Regions from separate parts of the Homo sapiens genome. Here region 2 is linked to region 1. The links come from fine-mapping of genetic effects on gene expression. A gene starts in region 1. The other region holds a variant in brackets. All regions are shown on one strand. Distances are from middle to middle. Region 1 holds the start of RARA (retinoic acid receptor alpha). Region 2 holds the start of RARA-AS1 (RARA antisense RNA 1).

Region 1 (15,148 bases):
ACAAGAATGCAAGCATGCATGCACACAGCTACACTGCCTCCCAAGTGGGACGACCTTCAGGTACACCTGCCATCATAGGGTCAGGCATCCTGGTACAAATGCATTTCCACGTGCACATTCAGGGCAGGGATGTGTACATCCCCGACGCATGTATGCACATCCACGCATGAACAAGTACATCCAAACACATTTGTGCACAGACAAGGGCATGAAGCAGAGGGTGGGGCACACTTCTGCACAGACACAGAAGTAGCCCCATGTGTGGATGAGGGAAGAAATTCATACACACAAACCCACCCCCCGCAGGGGTCAGACACTCAAACAAGACCAGCACCCGTGTGTACAAACACAAAGCATGCACATCTTTGGGGCATTTCCTTCCTGTCCAGGGAAACCAGTACCACCTGTCCAAGGCCCAGCCCTACCCAAGCTTGACTGCAGAAGGCAGGAGAGGTCCCCAGGTGGGGGACCAGGAGTCTTCAATCTGCAGCAGCAGTTGAACTCCAGCTATGCTGGGCTCATAACAGGGCTTCCACCACCCCCTCCCACCAGGGACTCTGATGCAGGAGGAGAGAAGGGTACCCAGGGAGCAGCAGGAAACTAGCAGAGAGAGAAAAGCCACAGGCTCGGGGCGCCTCACTCTAAGAAGGACACTCCTTGGGGCCTACTGTTTCCCTGCACACAGGAGATAGGCTGGGGGAGGAGTCTGAGCCCCATCCCTCTTCAAACTAGAGGAAGTGAAGGAAGAGAGTCTGGACAGGTACCAGGGCCAGTGGCAGTTCTCAGTAGTCAAAAGAGATAAAATATAGCTCTGAGACACCCTAGGAGGGCCCACACTTCTAGTACAACAAGGCTGTCTTCTCACAGCCTGTGGAAACTCCTGAAGAACAGCATTAAGTGATACTCCGAAGAGATGATGAGAAGCAATTGGCCCTCCAAGACCATGGTGCGGGAGTTTGTTGGAACCAGCTCCAGCTGACTCCTCTTCCCCTCCCAAGCCTCCTAGCTCATCCCAAAAGGAGCTCCTCCCACAAGTACCTTAATAGTCCCACTCCATTTGATTCTCACAGTCCTGAAGGGGCAGGCTCCTGTTGCCATTGTAGAGATGAAAAAACTGAGGCTCAAAAAGAAAATTGCCTTCCTCAACGTCATACAGCTTGTCAATGGCAGGGCTGGGATTCAAACCCAGGCCAGGTATGGTGGCTCACACCTTTAATTCTAGCACTTTGGGAGGCCAAGATGGGACGCCAGGAGTTGCTTGACTCCAGGAGTTCAAGACCTGTCTGGGCAACATAGCAAGACCCTGTGTCTTTTTTGTTAAAATAAATAAATATATACGTGTGTGTGTGTGTGTGTGTGTGTATATATATATATATATATATATATATATATATATATATACACATATAAGCATATATATATATATATATATACATATAACCCAATCAATGTTCCCTCCTCAACTCTTTCCTCCCCTACTTACTCCAAATCAAACATGTATGACTCCACTCTGTGCCCTGCTACCTTTTCCTTCACCCCTTAGTGGATCACAAGGGAGAAGCGCCATCCTTGCCTGGCTCTGCAGGTTTATGGGTGGGGCCAGGACATGCCAGAGAGAGATCAGAGAAGACACTGGGGGCTGCACACATAGCCCTCCACCCCCACCACAAGCCTGGTGCCCACCTGCCTAGCAGGCATGGCTGGGTGACTCAGCTGCATCCGGGGGAGATGCCAGGGCAGTGACTCACCTACCGAGAAGAGCTGAGCCTGGCACCTTGCCAGCCCCAGGACAGAAGTGACTTAGTCACCACCAAGACTGTGATGCCCAGCAGGCACAGCCCAAGGATTGCAGACAGGGGCAGACTGTCCCTCCATGGTTACATGCGCCCCCTGGCAAAGAATGGGCCTCAGCATTCTGGGGCCAGCAATGTCTGTGCCAGCCCCTGCCCCCTCACCACTGCCCACCCCCACCACACCAGGCCCCGCTCCAGTGCCAACAAGTTTTGTGAGACCCCTGTGCTGCCCTGCCCCCACTGCAGCCTGCCCATCACTCACCACCCACTCTCCCACCTGCCCCACCTCCTCCTGCCACCCAAGTTGTACCCAGGCTGTGAGTCTCCTTTAACATGTCCTGGCAGCACTCCCTGCCCCCACAGCCCCTCTCACCCTCTCCCCTCATATACACATGCACTCAAACACACTTCTGCCAGCCTTGCTTCTGCCAGCAGCTGCTGAAGTTGTTGAGCAGGAGGGAAATTGGGAGGGTGGGGTGCAGGGATTGAGTTACCAGAGCTGATGGGGTGGGCTGTCACCCAATCCCTTCCCCAGCTCGTCCCCACCCCCACCCCACCCCTCCACCCGCCATATCCCTCACCCACCTGCCTCCCTCCCTACCTCTGGCTGGCAGCCTACTGCCCTTTAAGCCCGTCCACCCAAGCTAGAAAATAAATGTTCAAGAGTATTTGTCATGTTAAGACCAGCCTAGTATATGAGAGAGAATGAGACAGAGACCAACAGAAAGAATAATTCCTGTGCTCAGTGCTCTGGCTACAACCACTAAATATGTGTATGTTGAGCCAGAAGGGGACTGAGCAACTCCGCAAGTCCCAGAAGAGTTGGTGGGGCCCAAGGAGAGTTGACAGGCTAAACAGCCTCAATCCATTTGCACTATTGATTTCTCACACACTGCAGTAGGCTTGATGGGGGGTATGATAAATCAGCCCCCAAGAGACACAGAAACTGCGTAGAGAGAAGGGGAGGGGCTTCTGAACCACAATTGGTGGTGCACCATGACTTGCTTGGTGCGTTGGGGGTGGGCAGCAGAGGAATAGGAGATGTTGAGTGGCATGAGGCAGGGTAGGGGAGAGGGTGTTGGATTAAGGCCTGTCTGGAACACCTCCTTCCAGGTGGGTCTGAACTAATTTGAAGGAAGAAGGTGGGAGACAGATGCACCACGTGTGGCTACACAGGCAGGGCCTTGAACAACCCCAGGGGGTGCCATTCACATCATAGTCTATGGAATGGTTCCCCCTGCAGCTGTGCAGCATGGTGGCCTGTGGGGAGAGCCTGAGGCAGAAGACAGAAAGCAGACTGAATTCTGAGGGACCACAATTCTCCATTGAGTTTTCTCCCCATACACACCCCAACTTGCCCCAACTTTCCCTGCCTCCAGGCCTCAGAGGGGGCCTCCTTCTGACTAGCGATCAGAAGCCAGTAGTAATCTCCCCACTCCTCAGCCCTGCTCCCTTCTTTTGTTGGGGAGATGGGCAAACAACCACCATGACCCACAGGTCCTGGGCAGGGCAGGAGGAGGGCTCACAAAGGGCTCTGGGGAGTCTGGACGTCCCTTCTGTAAGGTGTCTCCTAGCCCCACAGCTCACCAGCCTGTGAGCCTGCTGGAGCCTGTCCAGCAGCTCCATTCACACCAGTGGCCACAGGCCACCCAAACAAACCCAACTCTGACCTCCTTCTAGCCTGGACACAGACTCTTTCCACATGGAGACTTATAAACAAACCAAGCTGGGATTTTCAGAGACCCTGCACAAAAAAGCAGATGGGAAAATGGACCAGGTGTGCCTGGCTCGTGGTCCTCCTTGCTGCAGTAGGGAAGGGAAGCACACTGAGCTGTGGTGAGGAACCATGACAACAGAAAAATGGTGCAAAGGGAGGGCCTGGGTTCAGGTCTCAACACAGCCAATGACTGATTGAGTGTTCTCTCTAGGCCTCAGTTTCCTTCTCTGCAAGGGGAAGGGATTGCCTAGGTAGCCTCTAAAACCCCTTCCAGCTCTGAGTCCAGCTGGATAAAGAAAACCCTGTAGGGTGCCAGGACTCTTCCACCCAGTCCAGCCCGGCCCATCTACCTGGGTCATGCCCCTCTGGGTAAGGTCCTGCCCCTGCTCCCCATGCCTCCTTGCTGTCTTCTGCCCCTCTGGCCCTTCCTCACTCCTCTGCCTGCCTGCTTACCCTCACCTTGGCCAGCCCCTCTGCCTGCCCCGTGCTTTTCTGCACGTCCCTCCTGCCAGGGGACTGACCAACTAAAAATAGTCCCTGCAGCCTTTCTCGCCCACAGCTGCCCAAAGAGCAGGAAATGAGGGGGGCAGGGAGGCCCATGCCCTGCCTTACCCCCACTAACTCCCAGGTCAGAATCATGTCCAGCACTCCAGCCTGGGGCTAGCGCCAACTTGGCCATCCTGGGGGCATCCCACACCCCTTTCCTAGGGGGAGGCCTGCCCATAAGTGCCTGCAATCACAGAGCTGCCCCTACCCTGCGGGAGGAGGAGAAAGGAGGCAAGCGGTCTAGAGGGAAACCTTCCCAATTTCTGACAAATCAGTGCCAACCACATTGTGGGCACCCAAAGGGCAGGGCCTGGCTCCACTGACTGGTCTTTTGAGGGCAGAAGGAATTGGCTTGGGGAAGTTTGTGACAGTCTCCTTCATCCTGGCCCAACTGGAGGGAAGACAAAATAGTGCCCCAGCCTCAATTATGTTAGTCCCTTGCTCCCCAAAACCAGGGATTTCACTAGCCACCTGCAGATATCATGGGGAAAAAAACTAAAAAATGAGAGCAGGAGATGTAGGCTTCTGTAAAGAGAGAAGCCTGGAGGCAAGAATAGGCCATGCCTGCCAGGCTGGGCATGTGCTGCCCCCAAGCTGAGTCAGAGGCTAGGAGGGAGAAGCTGGGGTGCTACAGTGCCAGAGGCTACTGTGCCCCCACCCCTGTCCCACCTGGGATTCCTGACACCTCCCAGCCCTAGGGGAAGGCCCTCCCCACAAAGGAGGAAGGAAACCAGCTAAGCGACTCTCTGGAGCCCTGCAGGGGAGCCCTGCACCACAGGCAGGGAAACCCAGGAGTCCTGGCGCCCAGCCCAGAGACAGTGAAATATCTTGGAGGGGAGGAAACAGCCCAGATTGAGGCAGACATGTGGCACCCCCAGAAGCTCCCAGATGTGACCTACTGGCCAAAGGGGCTAGATGAGGCAAAGTGAAACATTTCTGAACAAGAAGAGAGAAGAAAGTGGGGCTATGGGAATGGGGTGGCGGGGGTCAGCCTGGCTCATCGCTGTCCTTTCCTCCTTGTCAGAGTCAGTGACACTGACATTAAGGTCATCGAATATCAACCAGGTCCTGAGGACCTTGGTGTGTTTCCTCCTCTCCTAGTCTCCAGACCCCAGCCTGTTCATTCCTGAGCTTCCTCTGGCACCCCTTCCTTGGGGCCAAGCCAAGTAAGAAATCAGCAGGCCCAAGGTGGTGCTTGGGAGGCCGGGGCAGTGCCAGGGGCAGTCCTCATACCATCCTCCCACTGGCTTCCCTCCTGCCTGCTCTTAGCCGCCACACATATCTCAGCTGTCGAATCCGATTAGGGCTCCTGCCCAGTGAGCCAGACAAGGAGGCCACTGGGCAGGGGAGAGAGAGACAAGGACGCCAAGCAGGGATGGCAGAAGGAAGGTGGAGACATGGCTCAGGGGAGCAAGTATGGGGCCCCAGAGGAAGAAATGCCTGGTGGAGAGATCTGTACTCTGTGACCACAGGTGCTCTGGTAACAGCTACAACCTGCATTAGGGGAATTCTGCAGTAACCGGGGCAATAGCCCTGCCTAGTTCCTCCATCCCCCAGATGGGCAAAGGATGGGGGAAGAAAACTAAAGGCGGAGAGATTGACCTAGATTTAGGAAGAGGATTCCATCCTAGATTCCCCCAGCCATTACTACCGTTTGCAGTGAGCTTTACGATACATTGTCTCTGTGGTTTTAGTGGCAATGTCCCTGCTTGCTACTGATAGCCATTTTTACAAATGGAGAAACTAAGGCTTAGCAAAGGGGAAGACCTATATAAACACATATAGTTAAGTAACCAGTCTAAGTCTCCAGTTCAGGCCTCTGATTCCTAGTTCACTGCTCACAGTCAGAATCTCTACTTTCCTTGTTGGATCAAGACCAGAACGAAGTCTGAAGCCAATTCATTATCCACCCTGTCCTCTAAAACCAACCTTTAGGGGACCCGGGGAGCCATGGAAGAATGCAGAGCACACCCCACACCTAGACAGAGCTACCAGATGGGGACATGCCACCCATTCCTATCATACATTGATTGCTAGAGGAGTTCCCTCAGTGTGACCAGTCTCTTCTATCACCCCCCTCCCCAGTCTACTACCCCCAGAAGCAAGACACACACTCACACATGGTAAGTCAGACAAGGTGTACACCCTTCCTGTAAACCCACCAAACCAGAATGACACGCCCTAGATCTTCAGAGAGCAGGGCCTGTCTGCCCACCACAGGAGAGAAAAATAAGCCACTGTAAACAGTAGGTGCCATCTAGCCCTCTCCCAGAGAGCCTGTAGCGGGGCAGAAGCTTGGGGACCTTGTAGCTCTAGAGAAACACCAGGAGCCTGAGATTCTGAAAGCCAAGAAGCTCAGGGAGCTGGCAAGGCTGGGTGACCTCCTCAATCTGGTCCACACCCCCTTCCCTAGCCATCTGGACTGAGCCTGTTCTGGCCTGGGCCACACTCTGGTATCCCTCCCCTTCAATGCATGCAGCCACCTCTATCCAAAGCTTCTAGATCTTACAACCACATTGTCCCTACACACACACACACACAGGTGGGGTCGGGGGGCTTCTGCAGCAGGTGTTGAAATGTTGACATGGATGGGGGCTCTAAGCTGAAAGAACTTTCCTAGAGGAAAAGCTCACCAAAATGCTCACAACCTCCACTACCCTCTAGCAAAGCCTTTAGCCACCCAAGTGTGAGATGAACCTGGAAGGGGACATTAGTTCCCCTACAAGGTGTGTAGGGAGTAGGGGCAAAGTCCTGAGCTCTTTGGGTGAGGAAGCAAGAAAGAAATCCCTTGGGAAAGCTCAGGTCCCTCTCTGGCTCTCTCCTCTCTCTGTTACCTCAGCACTTGCCAATTCTCCAGTCTAGGTGAGGTGGGGGAAGGGGTATTAGGCAATACCGCAAAGGAGGGTGCAAGGGCGTGGGGCCTGGGCAGACCTTCCCCCTACTCCCCACTCTTATCTAGAGAACGGGAACTGCCTCAGGAGAAATGCAGGAAGGGTGCTGGAGGGTGCAGAGGGCTCTGAGCTTTCAGACACCCCACTGTTCCCAGGCTCCCACCTCCCAGGACTACAGTGAGCGACGGGAGAGGAGGGATGGGGAAAGCCAGAACTGGCGAGAAGGAAATGGCTAGATCAGAAGCAGAGGCCGGGGTCAAAGGCGGCCAAAGAATTGGGAAGGGGTGTGCATGGTCCTACCTGCTCAGGTGTGTGCTGGCAGGGGGCCGATGGGGTTCCCAGGAGAACCGGGGAAGCCCTCTCAGCTCGATTCAGGATTCCCCCCTGCTTCTGGGTTAGGCTGCTGCAAGAGGCACGGGTTCCCGTTGGGTCCTAAAGCCCACTCGCCAACTAGAAGGCTCTCCCCGCCCTCTTCCACCAGCCAGCCCCGACTGGGTCAGCGGGCGCAGAGCGAAGGACTGATGGGGGAGAAGTAACCCACTGGAAGAAAGATGGGCGTCTGGTCATCGGCTGGGGACAGGAACAGTTCCCTGTCTCAAATACACAGCATATGGATAACTCGAGGATAGGATGACCTGAAACAGGAGAAAATAGACATTTCTTCCTGCCTGCCCTGAGCAGATGGATTTAGGTTTTGGTGCTGGAGGTGGGGTTAAGATCTCTTTCCCTGCCACTCCTGCTAAGGCATTCAGCTAGAGATTTTGGAAAGGGAGCATTCATTTTGGTTGGGCGCTCACTTCTGTCCTCTTCCTCATGGACTGCAGGAGTCCCTTCATCCCTCCCAATTATTCCCAAGGACCTAGGAGGCCATAGAGGGTGAAAAAAGATTTTCAGCATGTAAAAAGTGCAGGCTCACTTAGATGGCAGCTGGAAACAGGGGAAACATGTAGGACCAATGTATGTGTATCTGGGAATGTGTGGGGTCTGCAAATACACATATATAGGCAAGAGTATAAACAGGTGGGGTTAGGGAAGGAGAAAAAAACAAAAAAGAACTTTGGGTTACACCTATTACTGGAAATGGTAATTGTCAGTGGAAGAACAGGACGTAGAACCTAGAGGTCAACTAGTGCCCCTACCCAGCCCTCAGTAATGTCCCGAATCTTTATGACCAGAATAAACAAGTTAAAGAGAGAATATTTTCCTAGATACCATTTAGGATAAATATAGGGGCAGAGGGACCTCAATACAACAGATCAACTTCAAGGTCACTGATTCAGTTTAGTATAGCCAGTCTTCTCAGTAGCTCAAAAGGGAGAATTCAGGTTTGGTGGGCTAGATGGGCAAGAGAAAGCTGGATAAGAATTCTGAAGTTGTGGATTGAGAACATTTTGCAAGGAGAGTTGCACATATCTCTAGCAGCAGAGCAGGGAAAACGTCATGAGGGGAAGGGCCAGAGGAAGTCAGCGACAGACTTGAGGGGAGAGGGCATGGCCTCTCCCTAGAAGGGGAGAAGACACCAGCAATGCCTCCACCTCTGTCTTGCAGGAAGAACTGAGTAAAGGAGCTGGACTAAGGATGGAAGGCCCCAGGGTGGAGTCCATGGGGTGAGTTTAGGTCAAACCTTTCACCCTAATGTGCCTCAGTTCTCTCCCAGCTGTTAAACAGGGCTCTTCGTTCTTCCCAGGCAGTTAATGAGTGTTTACAAAAGGGTTTGGAGATCCTCAGATCTCAGCTGGGCCACCACTACAGTTATAAAGTTCAATAAGAGCTGAGTGTTATTTGGGGAGGAGAGGAGTAGGGGAAGGAAACAGATACTCTCTTATAAACTAAGGATAAAACTAAGCTCAGAGAGAAGCACAAGCCTAGCTGCCACAGGATATCCTTGTGCCCATGGATGGAGGTCACCCCACCCCCCCATCAACCACCACCAAAGGCTGGCCTCCAGCTAGCTGTAGGCAGAACCCAGACTAGCAGCTGGTCTTCATTAACTCCAGCTTTTTCACCCCCCACTGTGAACCCACAGCTTCTACAGGCCTAGGCTAGAGGGGGCTGCCCTAGCCCGACCTTGCAGCTGACACTGGGGTGGGGGGCACCGCACCAAAGGCCAAGTTACCAGCTGAAAAGAAAGTTGAAGCAAGAGTCCTTTTTCCCATTGGGAGCAAGAAGAAAGCAGTGTGGGGGTGAGAGGGTGGAGGTGGGGGAATTTAGGGCAAACAGCAGGCAGTGAAGTCAGCTGGATTGAGGCCCAGAAACCCCCACACCCTGGGGCCAAGTCTTACTCTAGCTTTGCTTTCAGCTTAAGTCTTGGCGAGGCCCCAAACTAGGGAAGGCCCTGGTTGCCCCTTTCCGCCTCCCTACCCCCACCCTTATTAAATACACATTTTATCTCTCAGCATCTTCATTATCTTAACTGAAGGAGACAAGCAGTGGATGGCGGCAGCAGAGAGCGTCAGGAGCGGGGGGCGGTGCGGGGAGCAGGCGCACCCTTGTTATAAAGTGCTGATCTAGCTCTTTCAGGCAGTGTGGGAAACAGAGGAGGGATCAAAGGGAGTGAGGCTGATTCAGAACTCAATTAGAGCTTTTTAAAAAACGAAGCTGGCTCTCTCCTTTCACCAGTCTTCAGCCTTTACCCAAGCCCCTTGCACCCAATTAACTTCCACTACCAGTGCCTTGGGGCTGGGGTTGAAAATCAAGGGGAGGCCAGAGGGCACACCTTCTCCCCTTACGGAACACACCTCTTCTAAGAGGAAGACCTGCACTGTTTGTAGCTTAAGAGAAGGTATCTTAGAAAGTACCTTATCTTTTCAGGAAGAACCTGAGATCACAACTTGCCCCAAGTTAAAAAGAGGGACATCAAAGGTGGGCTCCTCCCTAAACCCTTGCCTACAGACCCAGCTTCTGGCCAATCTAGCCACACTGAGTGACATCCAGACAGGCAGCCCTCTTCACAGCCTGTAGATAAGACTCTTCCCCTCATAGCCAAAGCGTCCCACCAGCAACATGGAAGTTGCCTCAAGCAAAATGCCACTACATCAGAGGGAGTGATTGGAATGCATCTGTGAGGCTAATAAATGCTCCAAAACTGTGCCAAGACACATTTTGTAAGACAGAGCACCCTTCTTATGCAGGGGCCTGCTCCACCTCTGTGCAAAAGTACCACCAACGTTTACCTTCAGCTTAGAACTGTTCTCACCACTGAGGGAAAGGCAGTATCTTATTTGGTTCACTTATCTGTTAAACAACTATTGAGTACCTACCAGGTATTAGGCACTATACTAATTGCTAGGCACAGATACAAATGTAAATAAAATTTCAATCTTGGATCTCTTTTGTCCTCCCTCAGCAGTCAAGGTAACACGTCTCAAGATATTTAAAAAATATATAACCGGCCAGGCATGGTGGCTCAAGCCTCTAATCCCAGCACTTTGGGAGGCCGAGGCGGGCGGATCACGAGGTCAAGAGATCGAGATCATCCTGGCTAACACAGTGAAACCCCATCTTTACTAAAAATACAAAAAAATTAGCCGGGCATGGTGGCGGGTGCCTGTAATCCCAGCTACTCAGGATGAGGCAGGAGAATGGTGTGAACCCGGGAGGCGGAGCTTGCAGTGAACAGAGATCGCGCCACTGCTCCAGCCTGGGTGACAGAGCAAGACACCATCTAAAAAAAAAATATATATATATATATATATAAATAATATGTATATAATATATAATATGTATATTATATATAATATACATTATATATATAAAATATATATAATATGTATATAATATATATATAAAACCTAAATCACATCTTATTCCCAACTTCTCATTCTTATTGGTGTATCTGCTTTCTGTCTTTTATAGAGACAGGGTCTCGCTCTGTCACCCAGGATGTAATGCAGTGGTGTGATCATAGCCCATGCCGAGTTGAACTCCTGGGCTCAAAGCATCCTCCCATCTCAGCTTCCCAAGTAGCTAGGACTACAGGTGCATGCCACCATGCCCAGCTGATTTTTAAGATTTTTTTGGTAGAGAAGGGTAAGGGGGTCTCACTATATTGCCCAAGCTGGTCTCAAGCTCCTGACTTCAAGTAATCCTCCCGCTGCTGCCTCCTCCCAAAGTGTTGGCATTACAGGCATGAGCCACCACACCTGGCTTGATGTATATTCAAAGGGACACTTAGTAAAGGTAGGGAGCAATGCAAAAGAGGGGGCGCAGAGAGAATAAGGCTCTGCCAACTTTTTGATCTCTGGGTAGCTTAGACCTCACACATTTTTTTTTTTTTTTTGAGACAGAGTCTCACTCTGTCACCCAGGCTGGAGTACAGTGGCATGATCTCATCTCACTGCAACCTCCACCTCCCAGGCTCAAGCAATTCTCCTGTCTCAGCCTCCCAAGTAGCTGTGATTATAGGTGTGTACCATGGCACCCAGTGAATTTTTGTACTTTTAGTAGAGACAGGGTTTCGCCATGTTGGCCAGACTGGTCTTGCACTCCTGACCCTTAAGTGATCAGCCCGCCTTGGCCCCACAAAGTGCTGGGATTACAGGCATGAGCCATCACACCCAGCATTTTTTTTTTTCCTTTTTGAGACAGTCTCATTCTGCTGCCCAAGCTGGAGTGCAATGGCACGATCTCGGCTCACTGCAACCTCTGCCTCCCAGGTTGAAGCGATTCTCCTGCCTCAGCCTCCCAGTAGCTGGAATTACAGGAACACACCACAATGCCTGGCTAATTTATTTTAGTAGAGACAGGGTTTCGCCATGTTGGCCAGACTGGTCTCAAACTCCTGACCTCAGGTGATCCGCCCGCCTCGGCCTCCCAAAGTGCTGGATTACAGGCGTGAGCCACCACCCCCAGCCTGGACCTCACACATTCTTGCAGAGTTAGCTAGCCACAGGCAAGTCTCCATTGAGCCAGAAACATCTGTGGCAGCTCTGGGGTTGAAACACACAATTTATTTTGTCTATGCTCTTTCCATGGCAACACCCAACACTCTATGGAAGCTTAATCAGCTTCCTTGGGGTGGGGGAGAGAGATAAACCAGGATATAGACACACACTCCATCACCTTCAAAAGGAAGAATGTAGGTCAGCATCTTTGCCACTACTCTAAGTGAAGCAGCCTATGATCCTGGCAAAAACTGCTAACCACAAGCCCATCCCATCCCATCCCACTAAAACTCCTACCACCTTCCTGAAGCTCTCAGCTTCAGGGAGAAAAGCCAGCAAGGAAAGGGCTTTCTTCCTCAGCAGTCTGAATTACACTTAAGACTTTACTGACAAACATATATCAGCTTTTGCTCCCACAAGGGCAGCAGAAGCCAAGCAGGGACACTAAGTCTGCTTCATGCATCATTGACAGAACCAACCCTGTTCCAACTGCTAAAGTCTTAAGAGCAGCAATGACCTAGAAATTGACAGTGAGGGGAGAAGAAAAGGAAACTAACAAATCAGTAGACAGAAAACTCTATTTCCAAAACCAGGGGAAAGGGAAAGATAGAGGGGAAAGAAATTTGGCCCCTTTGAATCTACCAATGTGATTTTGGCTGGAAGCCAGGGAGGATACATAGCAGCCCCACTGCGAGTCAAGCCATGTTCCTGACTCAAGCCCTACAGTTAAGAGGAAGGCGCCAAGCCTCAAACACAATGAGGTGGGGAGGCTGCTCCTTATTGGGCAGGATCCTACTGTGGACACAGAACAGACAGCAGCTGCCCACAGTGTGGAAACAAACTGTAAAGCAGTCACGTCTCTTAAGGCTGCAGCATCCAATAAAATGTAATTTAAATCAAGCTTCGCATCTGTTCTCAATCCCATTCAGTCTCTGCTTTCCATCAGCCTTCGGACAATCTTTGCAATTATGCATGTTAACCCTTATAGTCCCAGACACTTTCCAACCTTCTAGGTATAGAACTGTGTTTCCATGTTCAAACTACCTTCAGAGGGAACGAATACTCTAGTAAAGGAGTGTGAGAACAACATTCAGACTCATGCCTACAGACTATCATGTGCTACACACACCAGTGGGTAGTGTTCATTTCAGAGGGCTCTCTCTGCTTTCCTTGCCTCTATCCCATACCACCTGTTGTAGCTCAGATCACATTACACGGATACAGTGGTCAGGATGAATGAAACAGTGGCCAACAGATCACTTGTACACATATCAAGTTCCAAATGGAAGGCCATGTCAGAAAGGTAGAGGCGGCAGCAGGAGAGCTCAGGGAAAAGCAGACTTGGTCACTGGCTCTCAGATCATTCGTATCACACATGGTTTACATTTCAAGCATTTGCTTCAGTTATGAAAGGACAGCAATCTCCCAAACAAATCAAACTAGAACTTCCCCCTTTCCCTCAAAACTACCTCAGCCTCAAGCATCCCCTTTCAAAGTAGTCAATGTTATAAGGGTGCCCTCTGGTGTCTCAGTCACAAATTGCCATTTAATGCCACCAAACCAAACCCAGAAGGCTCTTGATTAACCAACCATATGGACTAATTTATCTAATAAGACTGGAAAAATGTGTTTAGATGAAAACCCAACCCCAAAGTAGTCATCTTGAAACAAGTGGCTTCATCTAAGGGCAGCAAAGACTGTGGGACAGCCTAGGAAGGAATTTTCACATTGACTTCTGAAAGCTTGAGCTCTCTTGAAATCTGATTGCTTAAAAAGACAAAGAATGCAACTTGAAAATAAATATATTCACAATCTGTAGAGTTATAGTCTCCTTATGACCCCAACGCCCTTGGGAGTGCCCAAGAAACTCAACGAGTCTAAAATGCCACAATGTTGTAGTATCTGCACCATGAACATAGTATACTATACAAAGAAATAAATTCTTTAACCAGTGTCCTCCAAATCTCCATGTGGACTTGCTTGCATTTTTCTGGATCATTTTCATTCTTCTTACCCTAAACTTAAAGTTCTTAACAAAATACCTTAATGGCTGAGCATGGTGGCTCACGCCTATAATCCCAGCACTTAGGGAGGCCAAGGTGGGCAGATCACTTGAGGGTCAGGAGTTCAAGACCAGCCTGGCCAACATGGTAAAACCCTGTCTCTACTAAAAATTAAAAAATTAGCTGGGCGCGGTGGTGGGCACCTGTAATCCCAGCTACTCGGGAGGCTGAGGCAAGAGAATCACTTCAACCTGGGAAGCGGGTGCTGTAGTGAGCAGAGAACGCGCCATTGCACTCCAGCCTGGGCAACAGGGTGAGACGCGCCTCAAAAACAACAACAACAAAAAAAACAAACAAAAAAATACCCACTCATGTTTGAGCAAACGAAGAGGTAAATATACACACATTCCTCTACACAGATCTGTACACTTGCAAGCACATTGGCTAGAGATACACAAGTGGTAGAAGTAGTGAATGTAATTAAAAAGGGTCTACCTGGTCACTTTTATGGGTAAAAATAGTAAGACCCAAAGATATTATTCTGTGCTAATATTAAAGAATCTATAGATTAAAATTCATTGGCTTCAAGTAAAAAAGGTCATATTTGTTTTCAGGCCCGAATGTGTAAAGCACTAAAATGAAGACTGTAGCTCTCTAAATGCCAGCTGAATACTTTCGGGTGGGGTGTAAGAGAAGAATTTAAGGCAATCCAGTAGCTAAGATATTTCCAATTAAAGCTTTATCTTTCAGAGCATGTTCTATTTCTTTCTCTTCAATCTTGAAAAACACCTGGAAAGAAGAGAAAAGGATTTTTCACACTGGGGAACTCACAAAAGCAAAGTTGTCAGTATACAAACTTCTACCATATTAAACTTTTTCTCACAAAAGGCAAGCAAGTTAAACACTTTTTTTTCCAATGGCTTGAAAAAATATTCATATCACACTCCCATCTTTACACACCTTAAACCTTACCTAACAAAAAACGACTTGTTTAACTAACTGTGGTCATCTTGTTTAACAATAAACCTTTACTTTAGCATCACTCTACAAAATAGGACAATTAAAAACACTGTCACAAAAAAGCAGTTGTACCTTTGTCAAACGGGTTTCCTTGTTTCTCTTTAATCCTAAAATGCCCCTGGCTTCCAAGAGCCCTGAAAGTGACAAACACTCTGACTGGTCCACAGCCGCCACCTGCTGTTTGCGACAGACTTTACTGTAGGCTTCATATAACTGGTAGGAAACAAGGGAGAACAAACGCTGCTTAAAAGTCACATTGCTTATAGCCTTTAATCATTTAAGAAACCTGAGTCTG
Region 2 (15,148 bases), 36 kb before region 1:
CCTGCAGGCCGGGGGAAAGCCATACCGTAGTGTATTTGCCCAGCTGGCAGAGGGCAGGGAAGGTTTCCTGGTGCGCTTTGCGCACCTTCTCAATGAGCTCCCCCACCTCCGGCGTCAGCGTGTAGCTCTCAGAGCACTCGGGCTTGGGCACCTCCTTCTTCTTCTTGTTTCGGTCGTTTCTCACAGCTGTGGAGGGCAGAGGGGGTTAAGAGGGCAGCTGCAGGCTGCTCAGGGCCTCGTCCACCCCCAGCCTGACAGAGAGCTGCCAGCTGCTGAGGAGGTCACCCAGGCTTGTAAGCACGCGCACACAGCACGCGTTCACGGGCAGGCAAGGCATTGCCACGCACTCCAGCCCTCCATGCCCACCCAACCCACACATCAAGTTCTGCCCCAGAAGCCCCATGAGCACAGCTGTGGCCCTGCACACACCCCCCACCCCACCCCATAGCCAGCCGCATGCTATCCCCCACGCGTCTACTCCAGCTCACACTCCAGGCGACGGTGCCCTCCTAGGTGCTCTGCCTCCTCTTTCCCCAGGAAGGTCCTTCTCCCGCCTCCACTCACCCAGCCCTCCCAGCTGCAGTCTCCCTGGGGGTCCCTTGGGACTGGCTCTGAGCAGCTCCTGGGGCAAGTGGGGAGTAGGGCTCCCCAGCCTGAGAGTGGGGGACCTGGCGGGGAGAATCTCTTGGCCCATTAGCTGGGGAGCTGACAAATCACCAGGGGCGCTGAGCCGCACACACCACTCGGCTTTAAAGAAGCGATGGGGTCGTTACCAGCCGATTATCCAGACACACAATCACTCACAGGGCTGGTGGTGGTGGCTGCTGACGCGGGAGGAAGGGAGGGTGGGGGAGGGGCTCAGGGAGGGGGTAGCGAGGTGGGGGTAGCTGGCATAATTTGGAGATCACTCATGTCGATTCTGCAAATTCAATAAAGTGCAGGGGAGAGAAGGGAGAGGGAGAGGGAGAGTGGGGGGATAATTTGGGAAGAGAAAATTGCAGCTGTGACAAGACGTTTATCATTCGGAAGCTTTAATTCTATTGAAATGGCAGCTGCTCAGCTCCGGGGCACAGAGCAGCCGGGAGAGGGGGAGTTGGCGGTGGGAGGGAGAAGGGGAGTTGGCGGTGGGAGGGAGAAGGGGTCCCCTCCCTGGTCCTTCTGCCATGAAAAGAGCAGAAGGTGGCACAAACAGAGAGGAGGAGGTGACAGCCCTTAAGCGAAGGGTTCCAGGCTTGTGGGTCTTGAGTTGTCACCCACTCTTGCAGCAGGAGCCACTTCCTGGGCTCAGGACAAGGCACCCCCAGCCTCCTGTGGCAGGACACTCCAGTCCCCTCCATTCCTGTCTGGGGCTCTTCGTGCAACAGTCAGAACCATCTCACCCGTGCCCCCTCCCCACTGCCCTCCCCACAAAGGGCTAGGGGGTCCTGCAGCCCCCTCCCCCATCCCATCCCCCAAGGCTCAGGCTCCATGGCAACGGCCACGCAGACAAGGAGGCGTCTGTCAGCGTCATTTATCTCTGACATCATCAATCACCGGTCACCATGGCAACACCCATGATTCAACACAAGAGGGTCTCCCTGTCCAGCCTTTCCCTCCCTCCCTCCATCAGGCCTCAGCTGAGCCCAAAGTGGAAACCCCGTTTCCTCTGGGATCTGAGAAGTCCCAATTCTTTCTTCCAACTCTGAATCCCAGGCTTAACTAGACAATGGCTTTTGGATCCTTGTGCCAGCCCTTCCACCCCCCCATACACACATAAGTCCAGCCAAGCACCCCTCAGAATTCAAGCCCCTCCCCTAAGACTCACAATCAGAAGGGACTGCCTATGCCTCTGAGCCCCACCCCAAAACCAAGCACGGCCTGGAAGAAAGCCATCCTGGAGCATGCACACACACACACATACGCAAGCACACACAGCCAGACGTGCAGAAACAGGAATGGTTACACATACACGGTCCCGGAGCACAGACCTGCCCGTGGACACACAGCCAGCCAGACTCGCAAACAGGTCCTTGCAGCTACACACAAACCATCCTCAACCGTGAGCCCGCACACCACGGCATGCGTGTTCATGCATGTGCACAAACATCCACAGAGCCCTGCTCCCTTGGTCTTTAGGAGCATCTGAGACCCCAACTGAGGCGGGACTCGGCCCCTGCCCTATGGCACTCACACTCCTTGGACATGCCCACTTCAAAGCACTTCTGCAGTCGGCAGTACTGGCAGCGGTTCCGGGTCACCTTGTTGATGATGCAGTTCTTGTCCCGGTGACACGTGTACACCATGTTCTTCTGGATGCTGCGGCGGAAGAAGCCCTGGGTATGGAGGGGAGGGAGTCAGGTTGTCCACACCCACAGTGGGAGCAGTGCCTGGCTACGGTCTCAGTCTAGGGGAGGAGGGCCAGGCCAGCTGCTGCCCCCAAGCGTTTGCCCATCGCCTACCTGAGCAGGCCAGAAAAGCTGGGGAGAATGATTCACCTAAAAGGATCCTCCTCAGGAGAATCCCAGTACCTGCCTCAACACTGCAGGATGGGCAGGAGTCTTCCCCCAACCCACAGCACACACCTGACTCCTCCCTTCCAGGGAAAAGACCTCAGGGCTGCTGGTGAGTCAGAAATAGGAAGACATGGGGCTAACTGGGCAACAGCCAGGGATCTGGAACCCACACCCCTGAACTCAGAACACAGGAAAAGAAGACAAGCCCGAAGAGGCCAGGAGGCAGATACACGGGCTGGCCAGAGAAATGGAGGCGAACACACACATGCACTCAGGAGCAAGGCAGAAAGATGTGAGTTCACCAAGACAGGTGTGCACCGACCCATCACAGACACAGACCCAGGCTGGCCAGGGGCTCCACATACAGGCTGACCAGAGGGACAGGCGGACAGAGGAAGAACAGACCAGGAACAACCAGACAGGACAGGCAGACACACAGCCTGAGTCCTTGTGCTTTGCCCTTGACCTCCGTCCCACATCTGGGGATAGCTACTCCAGGCTGAAGAGCAGCCCAGAGCTGCAAGGCCCAAAGCTGTGAAGATTCTGAGCCCCAATCTCTGGAGGAAGAAACGCACACAGAGGCTCAGGCCCCAGGGAAAGGAGGAGAAGCCGGGCGCAGGGCTGCTAAGGACCAGGTATACCTGCACCCTGGCACCTAACGTGAGGATGGGGAAATCCAGCCAGACACTGGGGAGCCCACAGCCCGGGCACCTGAAGGGGAAGCTAAGGCAGGGTGCCTGCTCCTAACTGCCTCCTGCCAGGCTGCCATGGTGAGGTTCAGGCAGGGCCGCCGGGGGAGGCCTCCTGGGTCCCCAGCCAAGAGCCAGTCGGCAGCCAGCTCACCATGGCAACCTGGGCAGCGGTGGCAGAGCAGGCGTACGCCCTGCCAGCTGGAGGATAGAGACAGGGAAAGGAGCTGAGGCAGGAGGGGACCTCTGGTTTGAGGGAGCCCTGCACATTTATGGGGGAGGACCTGTGGGGAAACTGTGGTAGGTGTCCCTGCTTGCTGCCAACTTCCACAGAGAAAGAAGAGCAGCAACTTCAGGGACACCCCCCAACTGCACACTCCCAGGACACAGAAGTGGGGACATCCCATTGACCTCATCAAGCTGTCCTTCCCAATGACCCCTTCAACTCACCTTGCAGCCCTCACAGGCGCTGACCCCATAGTGGTAGCCTGAGGACTTGTCCTGACAGACAAAGCAAGGCTTGTAGATGCGGGGTAGAGGGGGTGGCGAGGGAGGGCTGGGCACTATCTCTTCAGAACTGCTGCTCTGGGTCTCAATGGCTAGAGAGAGAAGAGGGGAGGGGCAGTTAGAGACCTAGGTCGCCATCCTTAGTACCAAGCTCCACCCTGCCTCACCGTCCCTCCTAAGAGCCTCTCCCAGCCTCACCACTGCTGGCAGGATTCAAGTCTTAAGAAAACTGGGACTCCCCAGCCAGACTCAGGGCAGGAGGCTGCCAATGAAGCCTCCAGCACCCCATCACTCCTCTGGACTCCTAGGACCCCCACCTTCAAAACCACAAAGATACAATGATAAACCATCACATTTGTATGTGTGCCGTGACTGTGCTTGGGGAGTAGGGGTGGGGGTCACCCTGATTCTAAAGCTCTTGCCCCTGGGCGGCCTGGCCCCGTTCTCCCCCCGAGTTAGGAAGGAGTTAACGCTTGAAGAGGAGGGAGGGAAGAGGACATAAGCTGGGGGCAGAGGAAACTGGGGTCAACAGGATATTCAAAGCCGGCCACTCCCCCGCCCCCTCTGCTTCCGCTCCCCCCTCCACCCCATTCTGCCAGCAGCCACTGCCCCTCCTCCACCCAAACAATCCCAGGGCCAGGGACCCAAGGCAGGGGGTGCAAAGAAGAGTCACAAATGCTGGGCACAGTAGGAGGTGTCTCCCTGAGATAGGGGGAGATACCCTGAATACAGGGAGAAGAGTCCCCAGGGCCCCAAAAGCCCATTATTCTGGGTACCCCCCATCTGGGGAGAGATGGCATGACAAAGGGGGTCTGTTCCCATCAATGCTCTGTCTGTCTGGCCTCAATACTATGTCCGGGTTACTAACCCCTCCCCTTCTGTTATTCAGCTCCAAGAGGGCAGCCAGGAGGGGTGACCCAGACAGCAGGGGCAGCCCTCACTGGCCAAATCCTCCCCAGTGTCTGGCTCCATGCCCATCACTGTAGGCAGAACAGGGCTGGGTTGGGTAGGGGCTATCCATGTCCAAAGCCTGGGCAGCTAAGGGTGTTGGGTGCAAGATAAGAACTATGACCAGGACAATCCCAGATTCCCAAGGGGCCACGCAGCATCGTCCTGAGGCCCCTACCAACGTTCAAGTTCTCTTGTCCAGGGCCAAGGATGGATGAGGATGCCTCCCTAGGTAGACAGATCCCTGCCTCCTCCCATATTCCACAATCCTACCTAGCCCTACCCCAAACTCCGGCACATGAGACTGGCTGGCATTTAAAGGTGCCCACAGCTCCTGGCCCAAGCACCTTACAGACATGAGTCACATAGCCCCAAATCACATGGCCCTAAAATTGGGGCACAGAGGAAGGAAGCATGGGAACACCAGGGGCTGACTATGTGCTACCACCCTCCCCCCTTACCTGCAGACACAGTGGGGGCTGCTAGGCGGCTGATGACAGGGAACTAGGCCAACAACCTTGGCAGGGCTTTCCTGGCTCTTAGTAGTGCCTGGGCACCACTTCCCAGGCCAGCCTGGCTGACCAGCACTGCTATGGCCCCCCATCCCCTTCCCTGCCCCAAGACCAGCCTGCAGCAATGGGACAGTTGATGCCCACACCATCCCCAGCCCAGCAGATTCTCTCCTGACCTCCCCACCGCCGTCTGCTCTTCACTCCAACACCAACTGCCCTGGCCTGGTTTTCTCCCACCTCATTCTCCCCAGGCCAGACAAGCAAATCAGACAGGCTGAGAGGCCTGAGAACAGCTGCTGGGGGGGCGGGGTTGGGGGGCCTGGGTGAGGCCAGGAGGCAGAGGGGGTGAGCCACAAAGCAGCCCTTTGTTGTGCTAACTTTTTCCAAGACGTAAAAGCAGTAACAATAGACAATCCAGACTGGTGGGGGGAGGGGAGATCAAGGGCAAGGGGGTATGTGGAGGGTTGGGGGGACCATGGCCTAGAATCTTGGTCAGCATTCCGACAAGCAGAGGAAGAAGGCACTGACCTCCCCACCCCTCCTAATCCACCGTTTGCCCTGGGCCCCGCCTCTCCCAAGGCCCCACTTCTAAAATGAACCAGACTGGAGAGGGAGAAAGGACTGAGGGAGCTTTGGGGGTACAGAGCGGGATGTCACGAGGGGAGCTAGGGTATGGGGAGTCATGGGGGATACCAGGATGAGAGGTAAACAGCTCTAAGGCCTGGGACAGACTAGAGGGCAAAAAGCCATAAAAACATGGAGCTAAAGCAAAGTCCAACAGAGGGTGTTTACGGAACTGAGAGAATGTGCTTTTTAAAATTATTTTTTGGCAGAATGGGAGAGATGACCAGAGGCAAGGACTACAGTTTAGGCTGGGCAAGGCCTCCTTTTAGCCCACCCAACGGCAGCTTGACTGCCTTGGAGGCTGTAACATAGCCTGCCCCCTACCTCCAGCACATCCCCACCTGTCACCCAGGTAACCCAGCTCTGAGGTTTCCCTGCTCTGCCCTTTGAACCCAGAGCTCGATGCCCCACCTCCCCAGGCCTCCAGCCAGCAGTCCAAGGAGGTGAGGTACAAGGACCAAGGCCGGAGGTGTGGGGAACTCCGGAATCCTCACAGCCTCTGCAAGAGTTAGGACACGGCCATAACTCCCTGCACACACAGGTGGAGTGGGGAGGGACACCAACGGGGGAGGGACTGCCCGGGCCTGGCCCATCCCTGCTAACCTCCCTCCCCAGAGGCCCAGCCCACCAATCTCTCCTCTTCCTGCAGAAGGACTCGGGCTAGAGAAGGACCACACCTTCTCAGCTCAAAGTTCCAGCGCCCAACAGAGGACTGGAACTGACCCAGGAAGCCAGGCGTCCCCTCCCGCCGACGCTGCCAGGGTGCCCCTCCCTCGCTCCCCATCCTGGCAGGGCGGGCGGCGCAGAGCGCTCCACTCCGGATTCCCCACGCCCCCGAGCCGTTCGCAGGCTCGCACAAGGGGCCGGTTTCCTGGAGGAGATCAGCAGGAAATCAGCCGGGCCCCCGGCCAGCGGCTCCCCTCCCAATCCAGCTGGCGCCCGCTCCTCCGCAGCTCCCCTCGCAGCCCCTGGGGATGGTTGGGGAGGGGGCGTAGGGCCCTCTGTACCGTCCTTCCTCCTCCCGGGGAGAGGCGGGGGTAGCTCTGGGTGTACCGCGGCAGCGGAAGAAGGCCCCTAGCCCAGCGGCCGCCTGATAAGCGTCTCCCCCTCCCCCAACTACGGGCATCCACGTGCTTCACATTCTTGGACGTCTGGGAGCGGGCGGAGGTGTGAGTGGCGGAGATTGGTGGGAGACAGATGGGGAGCCACATCCTGTGCACCCCCCTTGTCCTCTAATGCACCGAAATGAGGGCTCTGGGGAGGGAGGCAATGTCCCTAGGGCCCTGCAGAACCCAGGCCACCTCCTCCCAGAGCCAACCTGCTCTTCCCACCTTCAGTGGCAGTAAAGGGGAGAGTGGAGAATTCCCCAAGAGGGGGCTGGAGGCAGCTCCAGTCACCAGCGGACTTCCACACACCCAAGGGGACCCTTCCAAGGTGGTGGCATTGGCCCCACATATTCTAGACTGAGTCTAGTTGCCACCCTCAGACTCCGGGTCCTTCCTGTGCCTCAAGGCAAGCCCCCAGACCCCCATCACTCCCAACCTCACAGCCTCAGGACCCGAGTCCACTGACACCTCACTCACTTATATATGCACACCCACGCTCAGACTACGGGAACTGGAAACCCAGGCCTCTAGGTCTACTACCCCACCCCAGAATGG[A/G]TGTGGGGACAGGTCTCCACTTCCCCATGTCCAGTGGTTTAGGGGAAGGGCTCACCAATACACTGCCTGTCCTACTCTCTGTGATCCTCCTCCCTCTCCAGTTCTGGGCCAGGAAGAGCTGAGCTGTCCCCATGGGCTAAGAAGAGACAGGGGCTGGAGACCAAGGTCTCAGATCCCAGCTTCTCTCCAGCCCTCTGGAGAAGGTGGCCAAGGCAGTGGAAGGGGTGACTCTGGCAGCCCTGCTCCAACTATCCCCCTAGGGGAGGGGGGTCTTGCTCCAGCACTGGGAGAATGAGAAAAAGGGTCCTAGAGTCATCCTCTCACTCTCTCTTCTTCCAAAGTCAAGGGTGATACCTTCCCTCTTGTGTCTACAGCCACACAGCAGATTCGGCCCTAGAGGAAATGGTCGGGGGCAGGACAATAGGAAAAGCTGGGATAGAAGTGGCTCTGGGAGGGCAGAGGTGGGCTGTCTGTCCATCTCAGGTCTCTCTTCTCCCAGCAAGAGGGGTGGGGTAAGTCCTTTGCCCTTCAACCTTCTCCAATCTGCCAGGGCCCCCCCGAGACCCACTCCACCCCTCCTCCCTGGCAGGCAGGAGGGAGGCAGCAGGTCCAGGAAGGTGGGAGATCCTCCACGGAAGAGCTTCCCCTCCAGCAAAGAGCCCAAAGCCCAGGAGGGGAAGAAACCTGAGCCATCTAACAATAACCCCCTTGCGCCTGCTCCCGCCCACCCAGTGTACACTGCCTCACAGCTGCGCAGGAAAATGCCCAGGTGTACACCCTGGTGCTCCGAGCTCCTGAGTGTGCACAGAGCCCTTCCTCCCAGAGGAGCCTGCACCCAGGCAGGGGGCAACAAGGAGAGAAAGTGACCAGGCTGCCAGGATGCTAGGATTCTCATCAGTGCCCCTCTTAGGAAGGCACAGCCCAGGACCTGGCCCTATCCCCAAGTGAAGTCAGGGTAACAAAAGGACTCGGTGGCGGAGCTGGGAAGGGATGCAGTCCTCATTTCCAGAGCAGCCCCAGACCCACAAAAACAAACTCATTCCCCAGAGAACAAACCGGATTAGGATTAGGGGGAGAGGGATTCTTCTCACCAGAGCAGCTTCTCCCCTCCACTCCTGGGGATGAAAGCCTCAAAGATGACAGCCAAGTGTCTGGGGCCAGGACAACAACCCCATAAGGACCCAGTGCCCCTTGCCAAGATGGAAGGTTAGGATGGCAGACGGGTGTCTGATGAAGTTGCCCCTTTCTGCCACACCCCACTGTCAATACCAAAGACACTGAGTGCTCCCCTGACACCCACTCTAATGACGCAAGAGCAAGGGCTGGGGGCAGCAGCTGTCGCACAGGAAGGGGCTCTCCCTCGGGCTTTGGCAAGTGGGATCTGGCGGGGGGGCCTTCCCCCGGGAGCAGACAAACCCACACAGACAGGACCTTTACCCCACCCTCCAGCCTGCTGTGAAGCTGTTGGATTCCAGGCAAGAAGATATAAACTGGGGGCAAGGGGCTTGGGCTTCATTTCTCCTGGAAGAAGTGAAACAAGAGATGAAGGAATGTTGCTTGAAAGAAGGAACTCTCAAAGTTCCTCAGCCCTAATCTAACACAAATTGCACTTAGGGTTACTGGGGGGAGGGTGCGGCCGGGAGGGTTCAATTGTCCAGCAAGGGCAACACGGGTTAAGTGAAAGGTAGAGACAGGACCTCCACTACACCCCGGGACTCTCACCCCCGAGTAGTAGTGGAAGCCCTACCGCCCACTCCCACCCCCTACAACAGCAGACTGAGAGGCCGGTACGTACAGTGGTTTGAGCCATTCCAAAGCGGAGTCCGGAGCGGGGTGGAGTACGGACCCGGGGCGGGGAGCCCCTTCTCTGGGAGCAAACAGGCCCGGTTCTGGTTATAAAAATCCACCACTAGGAAGGGATTAGGGGTGGGACCCCCCACTTCTACACTCTCGTACATCTTTCCCCTCGAAGGCAAGAGGTCCGAGCTGGGAAGTCCTGCGCGCCGCCCCCGTCACTCAGCCGGCGGCGCCATCCGAGCAGAGCAGCTGGGGGAGAGGAGACGTCCCCTCGCCCCGACTGGTGACCCGGGCAGGGGGCGCCCCCTGCCCTGAAGTCCCCGCGTCTAAGTCCGCCGGCCGCTCCGCCAGTCCCGGTGAAAAGCAGGGAAGTTGTGTGTGCTGGGAGGGGGGGTCCGTCGGCTCTCCCAGGGAAGCCTGGCGGGGCCCGGGAACTCAGCGGCTTCACCTCGAGGGGACTCCCGTCTAGAGTCTCGTGGCGTCCGAGGCAGAGTACAGCGGCTCCCCAAGTCCGCAGGCCGGGGGCGGGATCAGCGCGGGGCTGGGGGTCAACGAGCACTTCCTCCTCCCAGCCGGGGATCCGGGGCTTCTCCAGGGATTCTCCGTGGCGAGGATTCCGGGTGGGGGTGGGGATCCCGCGCGGTTCCGCCCCCGCCAGGCCAGGGGCAGCTGGCGACTCGCTCGGTCTCTGGTGGTACGCGCCACGGCCCCCCCACCCCAGCTCTGCGCGCCCCCTCCCCTCCGGGCACCACCCCCTTTCCACCGCCCCGCCCCGTCCAGGCACCGCCCCTGGCTTAACCCATTCCCGGCGCGTCCGGCTGCAGCGGGAGAAACGCAGGGAACCGAGAGGGAGAGGCGGCATGTGGACAGGCAAGTGGGGGCAGCCTGGGAAGGGGGAGGAGAGGAGAGAAGCAGGAAGGGGGAAAGGCTCCAGATGAGGAGTACACAGAGTACAGAGGGACGCCGAGTACAGGGAGAGGAGGGGGCTGCGAGGGGACAAGGACGGAAGAGGGGCGGGCGTCCTCCCTTGTACCAGTTCCGGCTCCCAGGCTCCCCCAAGGTTTGGTCAGTCCCTGGCCGAGCGAAGCCGTGGTGGAGGAGGTGGTGGGGCGGGGAAGAGGGGGGTGGTCCCGGTGTCCTCCCCTTAACACACACCCCCACCCAGGCCGGGCCTCATTTGCCTAATGCAATGCGGCTGAACTCTCGCTGAACTCGCCTGGCGGCGCCTCACCTCCGAGTGACCCACCCACCGCTGCCCGTGACATCACCCGCTCGCCAGCCCGCCCGCGGGGCTCGCCCGCCAGCCCCCTGCCCGGCCGAACCGGGCCACCTCCCCCGGAGACGCGGAGAGCGGCGGCAGGAGGCGTAGGGCCGGGTCGCGCGGGGCCAAGTGTTTGGCACCCGGGTGTGACATTGTGCAGCTCGGACGCTGTGTCGGAATGAGACACCGGCTTGTGTCATTGTCTGTGACATCATGTGTGACTCCGGCCGCCGGAACCCGACGCGGCAGCGCGGGTGCTGTTGGCACAAACACAGGCAGAGGGGGCCCTCCTCCCCACGCTCTGCGTGCTTCCGGCGAGCAAAGCCCCGCCCAAGGTGTCTCCTAGCTGGGGAACCAGTACCGGCCCCTGGTGCACTGTCCAGCTCTGGAGAGATAAAAGGAAGAGCTGGTGCCTTCCAGTGGACTACTTCATCCTAGAAGCCCTCGGGATGCACGTTTCACTGGAAGAAAGGCCTAGCTTGGGTAGGTCCCTAGAAAGAGGGGATACCCCTGGAGGAGGGGGTATCCTATTACCCCCACTCTCTAAAAGGAAGGATGGAAATGTACATGCTACCCAAGGACATTCTTCTAGAAGAAGCCTGGCTCTTTATATATGTTGTCATTTTATCCTCACAGCAACTCCAAGAGATGTTTTACAAATAAAACAGGTCTCAGCAAGGCTATGTGGGTTGTCCAAGATCACATTACTAATAATAAAGAGTAGAGCAGGTATTTGAACTTCCTGCTGCCAAAGCCCATGTTCTTACCAAGCTAGGCCAATTCAAGGTATTTTTCTGAGCACCTTCTATGTGGACACCCTGGGGAACCTGCCCTTGTAGACCTTAGGGAGCAACAGCCATTAAGCAAATAATCACTGTATGCACACACAATTGCAAACTGAGATAAATGCTATTATGCTCTGAAGAATTAACATAGGTACCTAATTTAGGTTTAACTAAATTAGGGAAGAACTCAAATAAAACAGACCTACCATAAGAGAAAGTTTGTAAGTTAATCAGGCAAAGAGTAGAAAGGAGTGTAGTTCCAGTTAAAGGGCGAGTCTGTGCAAAGGCCCTGGGGTTACAGCAGTTGATGAGTTCATTGAAGGAACTGGCAGAAGGCTAGAATCATGGGGCACAAAATTCAAAAGGAAAAGGTACACAAGACCAGGCTAGAGAGGTGGGCTCAGGCCAGACCAGGGGGGCTTATAGGCCTCAGTAAGGCTTTTGGATTTTATCCTAAATGCAAGGAAAAGCCATAGAAAGGTTCCAAGCAAAGGAAAGATCAGATTTACAGTGTAAAAAGATCTTTCCAGTAGTTGTGTGAAGAATGGATTATAGGAGGGCAAGAGAGACCAGGTAAAAGCTACTGCAGCAGTCCAGGCATCAGACAAGGGTGGCTTGGCCTAGGAAACTGGAAGTGCTGATGGACAGAGGAAGGTGGATTCAATAAACATTTTAAAGGTACAAATAACGTGGGGGGGTGGGGGTAAGGGGTATGGGAAAAGAGGTAGCAAAGAGACTTGTGTGTGACTTACGCATCAGTGAAGTTCCTGAGACTGCAAAGCAGAGAAGTCCACTGGGCTGCTGGACAGGTGGATGTGGGGCCCTGAAGTGCAGTCAGGGCTACAGATGGAATGCTGGGGTCTGGGGGCAGGTATGCAAATCTTGACAGTGGATGAGACTAATGGCGAAGAGGACAGAGTGCTTCCATGCCTTCGGGATCTTTCAAATGATGGAGCAAGGCTCTGCGCTCACAGCTGCAAGGCGCTAAGGGACCTGAGACTCTGTCCCTGCCATCAAAGACCTTGTGGTCAGGAAAAGATGTCCCAAATGGTTACAGCTCATGGCAGGAACAGGGGAGAAGCAACTTCTGGGTAGCGAGATGAGTGTTGTTAAAAAATAAATAAGGACCCACAGGCATTCTAAGTAGGGAGGCAGAGTGTGGCAAGCAAGGGGGAACATCTGTGAAGATTTCTGGGAAGAGGCGGCATTCAAGATGTTCCTTGAAGGATAGATAGGATTTCCGGAGCTGGAGAGGAGAAGCTAGGGCAAGAGGCCCGTTCTGGGCAACAGCAAGGTCATGGGGCAGGTCAGAGCAGAACACAGTGTCCTGGGGCAGTGGGAGAAGTGGGAAACAAGGAAGGCTCTGGCCCGCAGCTGGGGCTGGGGGGCCTCCAGCGGCAGCTGTCTGCAGGCCTGGGGCCCCATCCTGCTCAGCCTTATCCCTCCCTCAGCTCCTTCTCAGGGCTTTGCGTTTAGTAAGCCCTCAGCAGGTGCAGGCCAAACTGGCCCCCACTTGTGCCAGGCAGGGCCCCCTCCTGTCCCCAACCCCATCTGGAGGGGACAACAAACAGGAAATCATGAGGCCCAGTGCCAGGTGGACACTGGCTCCCAGTATAGAGTGGCACCATCCCCCAAGACAGTACCCAGCTCTACCCTGCCCCTCACTATCACAGCCTTGCTGGGTACGTGAAACTCACCAAGGGCCTCAGCAGGAAGCAGGCGACCGTGGCCTAACGGCAACTCGCCCAGCCAAGGAGAGATTAGAAGTTTTGCTCTATTTTTTTATTTTTATTTATTTATTTGAGACAGAGTCTCGTTCTGTCACCCAGGCTAGAGTGCAGTGGTGTGATCTCAGCCCACTGCAGCCTCCACCTCCCGGATTCAAGCAATTCTCATGCCTCAGCCTCCCAAGTAGCTGGGATTACAGGTGTGCACCAGCATGCCCAGCTAATTTTGGTATATTCTGTAGAGATGGGGTTTCGCTATTTCGCTATCTTGCCAAGGCTGGTCTTGAACTCCTGAGCTCAAGCAATCCTCCCACCTCGGCCTCCCAAAGTGCTGGGATTACAGGCATGAGCCACCGTGCCCACGCTTTTTTTTTTTTTTTTTTTTTGAGTCCAAGTCTTGCTCTGTTACCCGGGCTGGAGTGCAATGGCGCGATCTCGGCTCACTACAACCTCCACCTCCGGGTTCAAGTGATTCTCCTGCCTCAGCCTCCCGAGTAGCTGGGATTATAGGTGTGAGCCACCGTGCCCAGCCAGAAGTCTTGCTTTAAGGAGGAGGAAACAGATTTGGAGAGAGCTTGGGTGACCTGCCCAAGGCCACACAGGAAGAACTGTCCTTTAAGACTCCTGCCCATGGAAGGCCCTTGGTCTGTGGGCTGGTTGAGGTTTCCAGCAACCCAGAAGTCAAAATGGGGAGGGGAGCACCTCTATTTCTGACAGCCAAAGGTTGAGTGGCCTCCAGTCAACCCTGGGAGGCCCAATCCCTCGCTGTGCCCCAACTCCACAGAGGAGGAGGAGGAAGAAGGCACTGCCCCAAAATGACTTAGAGATGGAAACCACTTCCTCTTCCCACAGACACTACTCCCTCAAAGGGCAGGCAGGCCTGCACTGGTACAGCCCCATAAGCAACACATCCCTTGGCATGGGGTAGACACAATACCTCGGCCCTGACCCACCTAAAAGGAAGACGGGCTTCCTTCCCTGAGTTCCCTCCCCGCGTCTATGCTGGGATCTTGTCCAGAGGGAACCTGTGCATTATCCTTGCTGGGAGATAAAAGGTGAGGGACCCCATTTTCATTAAAAACTCCATGTCATGTTCTTTTGTCTGACTCTACATTTCGGACTCCAAGAAAGGCATTGCTAGGCAGCACTCCCTCCACCTGGGCTGTCCCTCTGCCTGGGCTGTCCCTCCGCCTGGGCTGTCCCTCCTATTGTCCAGGGAAAGAGTGGGAAGCAGGGAAGGAGGCAGTATGCACAGACTGCAACAGCGAGGAAGTGGCAGAGGATAGGAAGAAGGGAAGGACACAACCTCCTCCTTTCTGCCTTCTGCTGGGGCTCACCCAGACCCTCGGGCATTCCCCAGTCTCTAGGCACACGAAGCAAACATGCAGCCACCCTTTTGGGGCTCCCATCCCCGGCTCCTCTGTTGATGGCTTGCAACTTCTTTGCCTCCATCCACAAATTGAAACAAATTAAGAATAAGAACTGTGGCTTTTACATTCTGTTCCTTCAGTGTCTGGAGATCGGGGGGAGGGTGCCCGCTGAGTTCTGCAAACTCCCGTGGGCTACAGCGGGCAGATTTGGGGGTGGGGATGGTGTGAACAGATTGTATCCACAGCTTCCAGGACAGGATGGAGATCTGGCCCAGGCCCCTTATCTTTCTTTCTCTCCAGCCTTCAGGATCCAAAACAGAGAGGAGGGGGTATGGCTTGGGCCTTCCCTACACCCCCTACCGGGGAAAGGTAGGTTCTAAGGCAGAGAAAGGGCCTCTACAGTGGGGAAGGGGGTTTCAGTCAGCACTAAGCCCCACCCCCCACACTTCCCACACCCAAGAGTGTGCCCCACAATCCACTCTCAAAGCTGCCTATGTAGATGGTGGAAAACAGCCCAGCTTTACAATCCTACAGTCATGATTCTGCAGTACTTTAACCTCCCCCAGCACTGTGTCCTCTGTGTAAGTGGGGATAATGTCCCTCTTCCAGGATTGCAGGGATTAAAATTTGTAAAACACAGACAAAGCCCCTGACACACAGTAGGTGCTCTATAGATGTTAGCATCCCATTCTCTCCAGCTCCCACCTACAAAGGGTCTGGGTCACGGCCAGGCACAGTGGCTGATGCCTGTAATCCCAGCACTTTAGGAGGCCGA

The links. PIP is the estimated chance that this variant, and not a neighbour inherited with it, causes the effect.
Region 2: its variant is fine-mapped to the expression of RARA in whole blood (TOPMed, PIP above 0.99).

What each region holds. Positions count from the first base shown.
Region 1 is chr17:40,301,386-40,316,533 of GRCh38, reverse strand. RARA (retinoic acid receptor alpha) reads right to left here and starts at 7,354. Exons shown (of 9, transcript NM_000964.4): 1 at 7,248-7,354. It overlaps CDC6 (cell division cycle 6), which reads right to left. Exons shown (of 12, transcript NM_001254.4): 11 at 14,926-15,066; 12 at 11,877-14,622. The coding sequence ends at 14,533. It overlaps LOC105371934 (a long non-coding RNA gene), which reads left to right. Exons shown (of 2, transcript NR_189654.1): 2 at 1-1,341. RefSeq lists enhancers at 4,068-4,568, 6,158-7,041, 7,353-7,482, 7,493-7,662, 7,042-7,927.
Region 2 is chr17:40,336,948-40,352,095 of GRCh38, reverse strand. RARA (retinoic acid receptor alpha) reads right to left here. Exons shown (of 9, transcript NM_000964.4): 3 at 3,632-3,780; 4 at 2,171-2,312; 5 at 26-186. RARA-AS1 (RARA antisense RNA 1) reads left to right here and starts at 8,960. Exons shown (of 3, transcript NR_110861.1): 1 at 8,960-9,220; 2 at 9,406-10,100; 3 at 10,396-11,229. RefSeq lists silencers at 6,562-6,611, 10,372-10,601 and enhancers at 6,216-6,766, 6,767-7,316, 7,317-7,867, 8,968-9,517, 9,982-10,031 and 2 more. The variant A/G (reference allele first, on the strand shown) is at 7,434.